2 linked regions of the Homo sapiens genome follow. The protein of the gene in region 2 interacts with the protein of the main gene of each other region in a biochemical or structural test. Each region holds a gene or a part of one and is shown on either strand. Other genes may lie near its edges.

Evidence for each region.
Region 1: the proteins of TRIM41 (region 2) and PRKCA form a complex in vitro, tested with the Homo sapiens proteins (one study listed by BioGRID).

Annotation. Positions count from the first base shown.
Region 1 is NC_000017.11:66,804,812-66,809,696, reverse strand, and holds part of PRKCA (protein kinase C alpha type), read right to left. Parts: 3' UTR 1-4,885. UniProt on the Homo sapiens protein: Calcium-activated, phospholipid- and diacylglycerol (DAG)-dependent serine/threonine-protein kinase that is involved in positive and negative regulation of cell proliferation, apoptosis, differentiation, migration and adhesion, tumorigenesis, cardiac hypertrophy, angiogenesis, platelet function and inflammation, by directly phosphorylating targets such as RAF1, BCL2, CSPG4, TNNT2/CTNT, or activating signaling cascade involving MAPK1/3 (ERK1/2) and RAP1GAP.
Region 2 is NC_000005.10:181,232,255-181,236,918, reverse strand, and holds the end of TRIM41 (E3 ubiquitin-protein ligase TRIM41), read right to left. Parts: intron 4,261-4,664; coding exon 4,030-4,260; intron 3,507-4,029; coding exon 3,484-3,506; intron 3,284-3,483; coding exon 3,156-3,283; intron 2,746-3,155; coding exon 2,144-2,745; 3' UTR 1,988-2,143; coding exon of another isoform or gene 1,829-1,987; 3' UTR 1,566-1,828; coding exon of another isoform or gene 1,515-1,565; 3' UTR 1,111-1,514; downstream 1-1,110.

The DNA of each region.
Region 1 (4,885 bases), on a different chromosome or scaffold from region 2:
CATCAGTCGGCCAAGTTCCACCTGAACTTGCAGTCATTCCCACGTGGACTCCATACCCTAGGAGCATGGGAAAATCTGGCAGTGGGAGATCAGGTCGGGGGTGCTCCAGCTGACCCAGGCTAAGTCCTCCTACAAGCTCCAGGGCATTGGAATCTTAGGAAATCGTCAGTTGCTTTGTTCTAAAAACTCATTTTTAAAGAATTATTATTAAAGTTCTCTATAAAAAAGTACAAATAGCCCAGTATATTCAGTTGCTCTACTGGAATTAACAAATAATTTCTTCCTTTAGGTTAAGAAAAAGTCTTTGGAATTTGGGGGCTTTTGTGTAGGGTCACTGTAAGGCTGTTGGATGGCTGAGTGTGACCTCCACGGTTATTAACTGTCACCTGATCACATAAATGGGAGGCACAGGGGTCAGAATCCTTCATACTGTTGACCTTCCCGAAGAATCCCTGACACTACGGAATTAACACAATTGTGGTTGACCCCATTTCTAGATGATGGCCTTCATCCATGTGTGCGTCAGGTAACCTTCCCAATTTCCTGGATCTTCTAGCAGCAGAAACAGGTAACATTCCCTGGATCTGCTGCATCAGCCCAAATGGGAGGAGACAGGAATGTTGACCGTCCAGTGTATTTCACATGTAGCCCAAGCAGCTTAAGGAAAATGACTTTAAAAAAATATTTTGGCTGGGCGTGGTGGCTCATGCCTGTAATCCCAGCACTTTGGGAGGCCGAGGCAGGCAGATCATGAGGTCAGGGGTTCAAGACCATCCTGGCCAACATGGTGAAACCCCATCTCTACTAAAAACACAAAATTTAGCTGGGTGTGGTGGCACGCACCTGTAGTCCCAGGTACTTGGGAGGCTGAGGCAGGAGAATCGCTTGAACCTGGGAGGTGGAGGTTGCAGTGAGCCGAGATTGTACCACCGCACTCCAGCCTGGGCAACAAGAGTGAAACTCCATCTCAAAATAAATAAATAAATAAATAAAAATTTCGCAACACTCCTTGTCAAATTGGTGTGTGGCCACTAACAACAGAGCACCCTTGTCCTTCCTGGTGACTGTCATGCCTACTGCTGTCCCGGTAACTCTCATGATCACACCCTTTGGGCCCCTGGCTCAGTGTCTGTTTTGTGATTACGATTGTCTGGTGTGCCCAGCAGGGGAAACAGGCACTCCTACCCTTGTCGGGTTATAAAGAAACAGGAAATGGTGTGATGTGCACACACAAGAAATAGGTGACTTTAGAAGACCAACGTGAGAAAATGACTGTCAGATGGTATCACCTTTCCGAGGCTTTTAAAAATACAAGATTGTCACTTTTTCTCTTTTCAGTACTGAGAAAACAAATTCCAGCAAAAAAAAAAAAAACAGGAACAAAAACAAAAAAAACCCTCCGAAATGTCTCCTGCTAAGTGGAACCCAGGTGGGAACTGCGGTGTTAGTTGTTAGTTGTGCGGTGTTAGTTGTTTTTACTTCTCCATTCATCCTCAGCTGCCATAATTCTTGGCAGGAAGCCAGAGAGGAAAATGGGCAGGAACCTACTGGCCTCTGGGGTACACTGGATGGTCTGGCTCTGCCCAGAGAACTATGAGCTACTTCAAGGTGGGGAGGGGAAAGGGGCTTCTAGCAGCTGGTGGGGATGTTGTTAGCATTTGGGGGGTGTTTTCTGAGGAGGAACAGACTGTGTCCCTGGCAAAACACTCTCTTGAGGGCCAGCAGACAGAAACTTCCATCTGCACCAACCACCTCCGATGGGAAGCCGTTGACGGTGGCACCCCTTCCTCTCCCTCCTACTGCAGGCATATTTCTGGATGCACCCAAACCCTGTTCTTCTCTGGCTCCTTCCTGACTACAGCCCCCGCCTCCCTCTCCCTTCTCAGCACGTCCGTTGGGGGGGCTCTCTGGAAGTCTGCATCCTCCTTCCAGGAAGTCACCACACTCGCCTAAGGACTTTGGCTCCGAGAGGTGCTCAACAATCATTTGTTGGGCTGCATGAACCTTGGTCTTTCCGGCCAGGCTTCCAGAGCTCTTGGCCCCATGGTTTTCTATCAAAATTCTGAGTAAGAAAGCCTAATACGTGGCATCAGAAAGGGCAGACAGTGGCCCTGCATGGACCACACGAGGCCAGTGGATGAAAGGAAGGGAAGCACTGCCGGAGCAATAATTTTGACTCCTGTGGTTTCTGATCTGCCTTTTGAATTAGTTCTTGCCTGGATGTGGGCCTCTCATTAACCTTGGAGGGCGGCCCCTGGCAGCACTCCAGTGACTTCCTTTCAAACCCAGCACCTGGTGACCTTCAATTGAAATGCCAAGAGACGGGCTGCCAGCCCACGGCCTGCAGCCTCAGGGAAAGGCCCTGCCACCGAGGAGTGGCCACCTTCCAAGGGAAGATAATGCAGAGCCATTTGAATGGCCTGGTGTGGTCATAGCTCCATGGGTCCTGCGGGGATTCGGACGGTGCTAGATTCTGCCAGGCGGCCTAGACCTCCACAGGCCCTGGCAATCAGGCAGTGCTCAGGGGCAAGGACTTCCCAAAGCATCCCCCAGGGACCTCCTGCGTGGCTGCGGCAGTTCCACAGCGCACCCCTCGCCACCATCTCATTTCACACAATACCCACGAAGGGGCCAGTACCATAGAATTTTATGAACTGATTCTGAGGCGAGCCATTGCTCATGGTTATCTACATGACAGTCTTCCAACAATAACTGTCTTTGGCTGCTGAGATCTGGAAAGCCCTAACCATTACCCACATTCAACACTCAGCAATGGATAAAGCAGGTTCCACATGACAACACTGCACCGGGCCCTGATTTTGACTGTTTCTCTCTGGGGGTTTGTTCTGATGTCTGTTGTCCCTCAGGCAGTGTGCTGGGCACCCCTGTCGGGGCATTTTCTTGGAAAACTTTGCCATATGGTCTGAGAGAGTAACAGCCAGCTGAGACAGTGAATGTGTTTCCTAGAGAAACAAACTTGTGGGTGTTGGGGTTGCAGGGAAGGCCTAAGCCTGCTGCCTGCTTTAAACAGGCAGGCTGTTTGGGGTGCTGAACAAGGGTCCCTAACCTCATGTGTTCCTCCGTGGGATCTTCCTCCTCTCTGGGGGGCCTCGTGGGGGTCTGTCCTGCTGCTGCTCCATTCTGGGCAGGGGGACTGGCCCTTTTGTCTCCTAGGCTCTTTCTATAAACCAGTCCCTTTCCCCTCGGATCAAAGGAGGAGCACCTGGTCAGGACACGAACCCAGATCATGCACTGACCTGCAGGGCTGCAGGGACAGGGGAGCCAGGACCCCCTGGAGTCTCGATGTCTATGGTGCATAAAAGATGGCAGAAGAAATGGTTCTTTTCTGGCCGGGCCCGTTCCCTACCCCGTCTCTCCTTCTACTCAGGGTTGCCAGGACCACCTGGGCCTCTCACCTCAAAAAGCCTTTCATGGTTGTGTGTTCTGTGAACTTCAGGCAAACAGCCAGAGGAGAAAAATAATGCGAGCTTAGCTGGGAGATGCTTCTGGGAGGAAACAGAGCGGCTCTCTACAAGGACTGACAGCTACTTTCATTCTGTTTCTGTTTGTGGTAGAACCCGGCTACTCTGAGGACCTTGCATGGGGGTGTCTCACCAAAGCAGCGCGCTCCTCCCAAGACTGGAAAGGCCAATGCCACAATGGCTGGAAGAAAGTCCGCAGCCTCTGAAAAGCACGTGCTGGTGCCTGCAGGGCACGGCTGTGTTGGTCTCACGAAGTTTGTGCATGCTGGAGCAAACGACAGGTCGTTGCAGAGGCAGCAAGACAGCATGCTTCCTGCGTGTCCAGTACACACAGCAAGAGGGGAGTCTCCCCATCCCTCCCACCCCTGGAGTCAGCAACAGTCACAGGCTGAAGGGAAGAAGGAAACACACACACACGCACACACAAAGGTCAGCCCAGGTGCTGCGGCAATGCCACGTGTGTACCAACGTACTAGGCAGACTGGAATCAGACACTTCCTGTTGTCCCCAAGAGGAAGAGTGGCGGAGGAACCAGGACGAAAGGTGACATGAAGAAACTAAGAGGGAGTGTCAGCTCAAAAATAGTCCTCACCAATAAAAATTTGTTTGCAGGTAGAATCAAATACATATATATACACACACATATGTAGTAAGAGCCTAATCTATCACGTAAACTAGCCATTCATTTTTGAAATTTTATCTACATTTAAAAAGTAATCTATCTGATACAGTGCCCATGTGCAGGGAGGGAAAGCACAGAAGCAAGGGATTCAGCTAAAACTTAATTAGAAAAGAGGATTAGAAACAAGAACCTGCACAAATAGAGCACAATTGTGTCTTATAAAATTATTATAATACTCTCTTTATACTTGATACGATTATATCAATAATATAGATTCACTTGTTATTAAGGTTTATTATAAACATGCAAAATTCATTGCATGATGCATTTGCAAAACGTATTAAAATCCTTCTATTAACAAAACATCTTTGAGCTGTTAGGCATCCGGGTTTCCTGATTCTACAGCTCCAGGCCTGTCATTCAACGTGAACTAGAAATGGGAACCAAAACCATATTCTTTTTATCCCTAAGTGGACATCCAGGGCTAGAGAAGGGAGGAAAATCAATCGGTAGAGGCTGATGCTAGAGTCAGCACTTCCATTAAGTTACTGTACATCGTACTTTCATAAGCGACACTGCAGCCTATTAAATAAATAAGCACAAAAGGGGAGAGGGCGTACACTTCAGCTTCTTGAGAAGGATAACAAGGTAGGCAGCAAAATGTTGGTGTGTGTGGGGGTGGGTGTTGGTGAACAACACTGGTGAGTAGTGGCATGATTACTGATGGCACCCTGGATGGAAAAATAATCTCCCAGAGATTAAAATGAACATATGTACACAC
Region 2 (4,664 bases):
TTTTTTTCTTATATGCAAAAAAGCTCCATTCTATCTACATTGCTTACACATTAAGTTTGCACTAGCGAACTGGATGCAAGGTATGGACTAAGTAAACAAGGCTTTGAAGGGGAGCTGTCCGTCTAAGTTCTCAGGATTGGGGTAGCATCAGGTGGGATGTTTGTGAGAAGTCACATAGCAGTTTCCCTGAACTTAAACCCCATCAGCGTCCTACATACCACGTGCAGATCATCAGGGCCTACCTTCAACCTGGGGAACCTTCTTGAGGGAAAGAACTGATTTCAAAGTGGTTGCAGTCAATTTTTAGAAAAAGCAGACTCCGCAGGTCCAACCCCTGACACGTAAGAGTGGAAGATGAATCCTCATTCCTCTAAAGATTTGAACATAATTCAGAAAACTTAAGCTTCATGTTAGCAGTCTCTGTCAACATGGTCTTTGAGGAAAGTCAAGGGTTTTTAATTCTTTAAGCAAGGCAGTTCTCACCAGAAGAACTTAATTCAAAACTAATTTATTCCTCAGGTCAAAAGTTTTGGGGTGGTTGGTCTGGAAGCATTCATAAATAGAACCATAAAGTTGGCCCTACTAAACATTTCAACTGCTACTATAACCTGGCCCTCAATCCCCCTACACACAAACACAGTTTATTCATGAGGATAGATGCCTTGTGAAAGGCCAGAAGTGAGCCATTAAACTACAATTACAGTTTCCAATAGAAACCTCAGTACAGGGATGGAATGGTTCAACATGCGGCTGAGACCCCACTACCCTTGCAATTTTCTGTGCTAAGCAACTACAGCATATTGAAGGCCCACATGCACCCTCCACTTCCTACTCCCCTCAATTTATAATGGTGATGAGGCATTTCTGGCTTCAGTTTCAACTACGTGTGGCAAACATCTCTAAGTAGACTGAACAGTTAGTAAGTTAGGTTAAGATATTAAAATGGGGAGCAGGGTCCACATCCCTGTTGAAATAGGAGCCTGCCTGGTAACAGGTGCAAAGCATGCCTTTAACTGCAACTAACCAGTTCAGTTGTGTGGCTTCTCACTGCAGGGGCGGCAAAGGAAGAAATCCTGAGTTACACCCTCACCTGAAGGAACAGACCTCACAAGAGAAGCAAATAAACATTTTATTTCCACAGCACGCCTTCCCTTTTCCCAAAGAACATGAGTTCACCTCAGCCATCAAAGCAGAGGGCGAAAGCTGCAAGTGACAAGGCAAGAGGCTCCTAGAAAAATAGATTATACCCAAGGCTCTCCTCCTGGGGACCCAAACCCGTCCCCAGGCTCCCCCTCAGAGCTTGCCAAATGGAGTGAAAGGCATGGAAAGGGGCTGGGAGAAAAGCCAGCTCCACTGAACAAAGGGGAGAGGAGCCTGGCAGTGAGCAGACCTGGGAGGGGTGTGGGGTGGGATGAGCTTTGCTCCTTGGTTGAGTGCTGGAAAAGGGAAGGGGGAAGAAATAATTTATGTTGATGTAATTAATGTAATGATGATGTAATGGTGCGTGGTTTCAATCATGGCGACCATTCCAGATCTCTCTCAAGTGAAGCTAAATTCTGGCCGGTCTATGGAGGTAGAAATTGAGGACGGAAGGAAAGTTTAGAATCCCTCCTCCCCAGGAGAATAGACATTTATTACCCAGCTCTACCCTTTGGCCCAGCCTGCCTCCCCAAATGGCTTCCAAATCCCTCAGCTAAAATCTGCATCAGAAAATGGAATTGGAATGGGGATGTTGCCTTGCCCAAACCCTCCAGCCTCAGAACTGATAAAGAGGTTGAAGAGCAGGGGTGGGGAAAAGGAAGTTAAGGAATGAAATTACAATTTCCCCTCATCCCCTACTCAAATTCCAGTCCCAGGGCTGGGCTAGGCAGACTGGGAGAGAAGACCAGGCAGCTGTTCTCATTATCAGGGACCCATGCAGACCTGTTGGACAGACATAGTAGGTGAGAGAAGGCTGAGCTGGAGGCCAGGAGGGTTCTTTAGGCTCCTAGAGGGAGAAGCAGGGGCCTGGGGTCAAGGGGGAGTGGGAAGCAACACAGTAACAAGCAGTGGGAAGAGCCTTTGAGCCCTCAAACTTACGGGCCACCCTCCACCACCCACCCCCCAAGTGCTGACAGAGGGGCCCCTGCGGGTGGCAGGATAATCAAGGGCAGAGCTTGATGCGGGTGCCCTTGGAGAGCACCCGGAAGAAAGGAAAGACACGCTCGCCCAGGAAGGCAGCCGAGAAGGTGTGCACGTGGGCTAGAGTCTCTGCGTTGTAGAAGCCCAGGCGCCCAGCTTCATAGTCCAGGTACACACCAAAGCGCCTTGGTTTCTCACTGGGGCTCAGCAGCGTCTGTTCTGTGGAGCTCTGGGCCTGATAGCGTTTGCCGTTGGTGCCCACGCACCACACTTCCCGCTGGAGCAGGGGCTGCTGGGGCAGGTGGAGCCGGCGGCGGCGATGGTGATGGCGCGAGGAGCTGGCATCCCCGCTGCCCACGGAGGAACCCCCAGGGCCCACCTTTTCCTTATGATGGGTTGATTCACGGGCAGCACCCACCGCCCAGCCCCGCCGCCCGCCCACCTCTACCTCCCAGTAGTGCCGGCCGGAGCGGAAGCCCTGGGCCCCCAGTACGCAGCAGTCGGCCGAGAAGCGCTTGGGATGGTCAGCAACCTCCTGCCGCCGCTCTGCCAGGCGGACCCCCCGGCGGTCAGGGGACAGCATCAGGGCCGGGTGAGCCGTGTCAGGGTCCAGCGTCAGGTCCACTTGGGAGGGAGGGAGGACAAATACGCCAGGGCTGGAACGGCTGTTCCCCTGTCAGCAGCCAACTCCACAGATTGGGCCCCCTTTCTCCCTGAATCCAGCTCCCCACACCATCCCAGAGGCCAGCCTCAGATTCCTGCAGGCTCATCTTGCTCCTCACTCTTGTTCCTAGGATACCTGACAGGTCTTCCCCCAGCCTGGCTCTTCCTGCCACTCCACCCCACCCCACCCTCCAGGCCTGCCTGCACTAGGTCTACCTGCTCATGGCTTGAAACCTCAACCTCAGAGTGGCTGCCTGGATCCTGCTCCATCTCAAGCCCCACAGTTTCCCTGGGGCCCAACTTCCCTCAGGACCCAGTCTCAGGTCTGTGAAGGGAAAGGCAAAGGAAGGTCGTGGAGGTGACCTCCCTACCTCTCGCAGCCTGACAGAACATCCGGCTCATTTTCCTCACGATGGCATCTGTCAGGAAGTCATGGCTATGGGGTTGGCACGGGTCAGGGGACCAGACCTCTGGGGGCTGCAGCTGTACCTCTTCACACCTGGAGGAAGGGGACCGGGCAGGGGGTGGGACCACGATATTCCCAGAGGGAAAAGCAAAAGCTGAGGGGAAGGAGAGGAGGGTCCAGGAGATGGAAACTCAGGTCCTGGGGAAGGAAGGAGAGGAGAGGGATACCGAAGAGAAGCAGGGACAGGGAACCAGATGCCACTGGGTCACGAAGGGCAAAGACTGGGAACACACCTATTGAAAGTCTCCTTGATGTCCTGGGAATAAGAGAAACAAAAAGAGGGAGAGGGAGAAAGAGATAAAGAGAGTGTCAGCTGCACAGGGACAGCGTTCCCCGATCTCCAGTCAGAGACTGAACCTGAGCAGGAAGGGAGAAGCAGCACCCTCACGGCCCTCAATGAACACACATCCATTTCAACCACCCCATGCCTCGCCATACCTAACTCGCCTCATCCTGCTGTGAGCCCAGGGATACTGTCATTTCCACAATACGACTTGCTCACCTTTTTCAGGATGTCACTGTCAAAAAGACTTTCCTCAACTGTCATTTAAACCTCTCCTACAACCGAATCTTCATGCTTTTCACTGGGTATAATCGCCACACATACCACATTCGACATTAACTCTGTTTCCAGCTTTAAAACATGTTTTTGGTCTTCAGGTTCAATCACTGTGGGTTCCTCCCAGGGAGAAAAGAGGCAGCTCTGGACAGGCGTTTGGTAAGCACTGCCTGACAGCCAACACAGAATGCTGGGGGAACAGGGAGGGGACATTGCTCACCTGGAGCAGCCGGAGACCCCCCTGCTGGCTCCGCTCCTGGGCCTCTGCCAGCAGGCGGCTGAGCTGGGCGGCCTGTTCTGCAAGGCGACTAGCCGCGGCTCCCGCACGCCCCAGCTGGGCTTCATGCATCTCTCTGAGACGCCGTTCCAGCCCTGCCTGCTCTTCAGCCAGAAACCGTGTCAGTCGCCCAAACTCCGAGGCCACCGCTGCCAGCTCTGACTTCATCTGGCTCTGGAATGGTGCAAAGGGGATGGCAGACACCACCTCAACACGTACGAAGATAACCTCCAGTTTTGCAACTACTACTTCTCAATGCAAGGCAAAGGAGCCCTACACTCCCCAGGTCCAAGATAGTCCCGGAAAGAGGCTCATCCCCTACCAGCCTTACCAGATACCACCCCCTTGCTCCCAGCACAGTGGTCTCAAACTCACTAACCTCTGCCTGGAACACTCCTCTCCACCTGACTCTACCTAAGTTGACTCATCCTTCAGGTCCAACCTTAAATATTCCAAGACAAGCCTTCCCTCCTCTCCAGATCTAAATCGGGACCATCCCCACAAATATCACTGTATCTCTCTGTGGCACATATAATATTGAAACGTTGTGTTTAAATGACGTAACTGTTAACATCCTT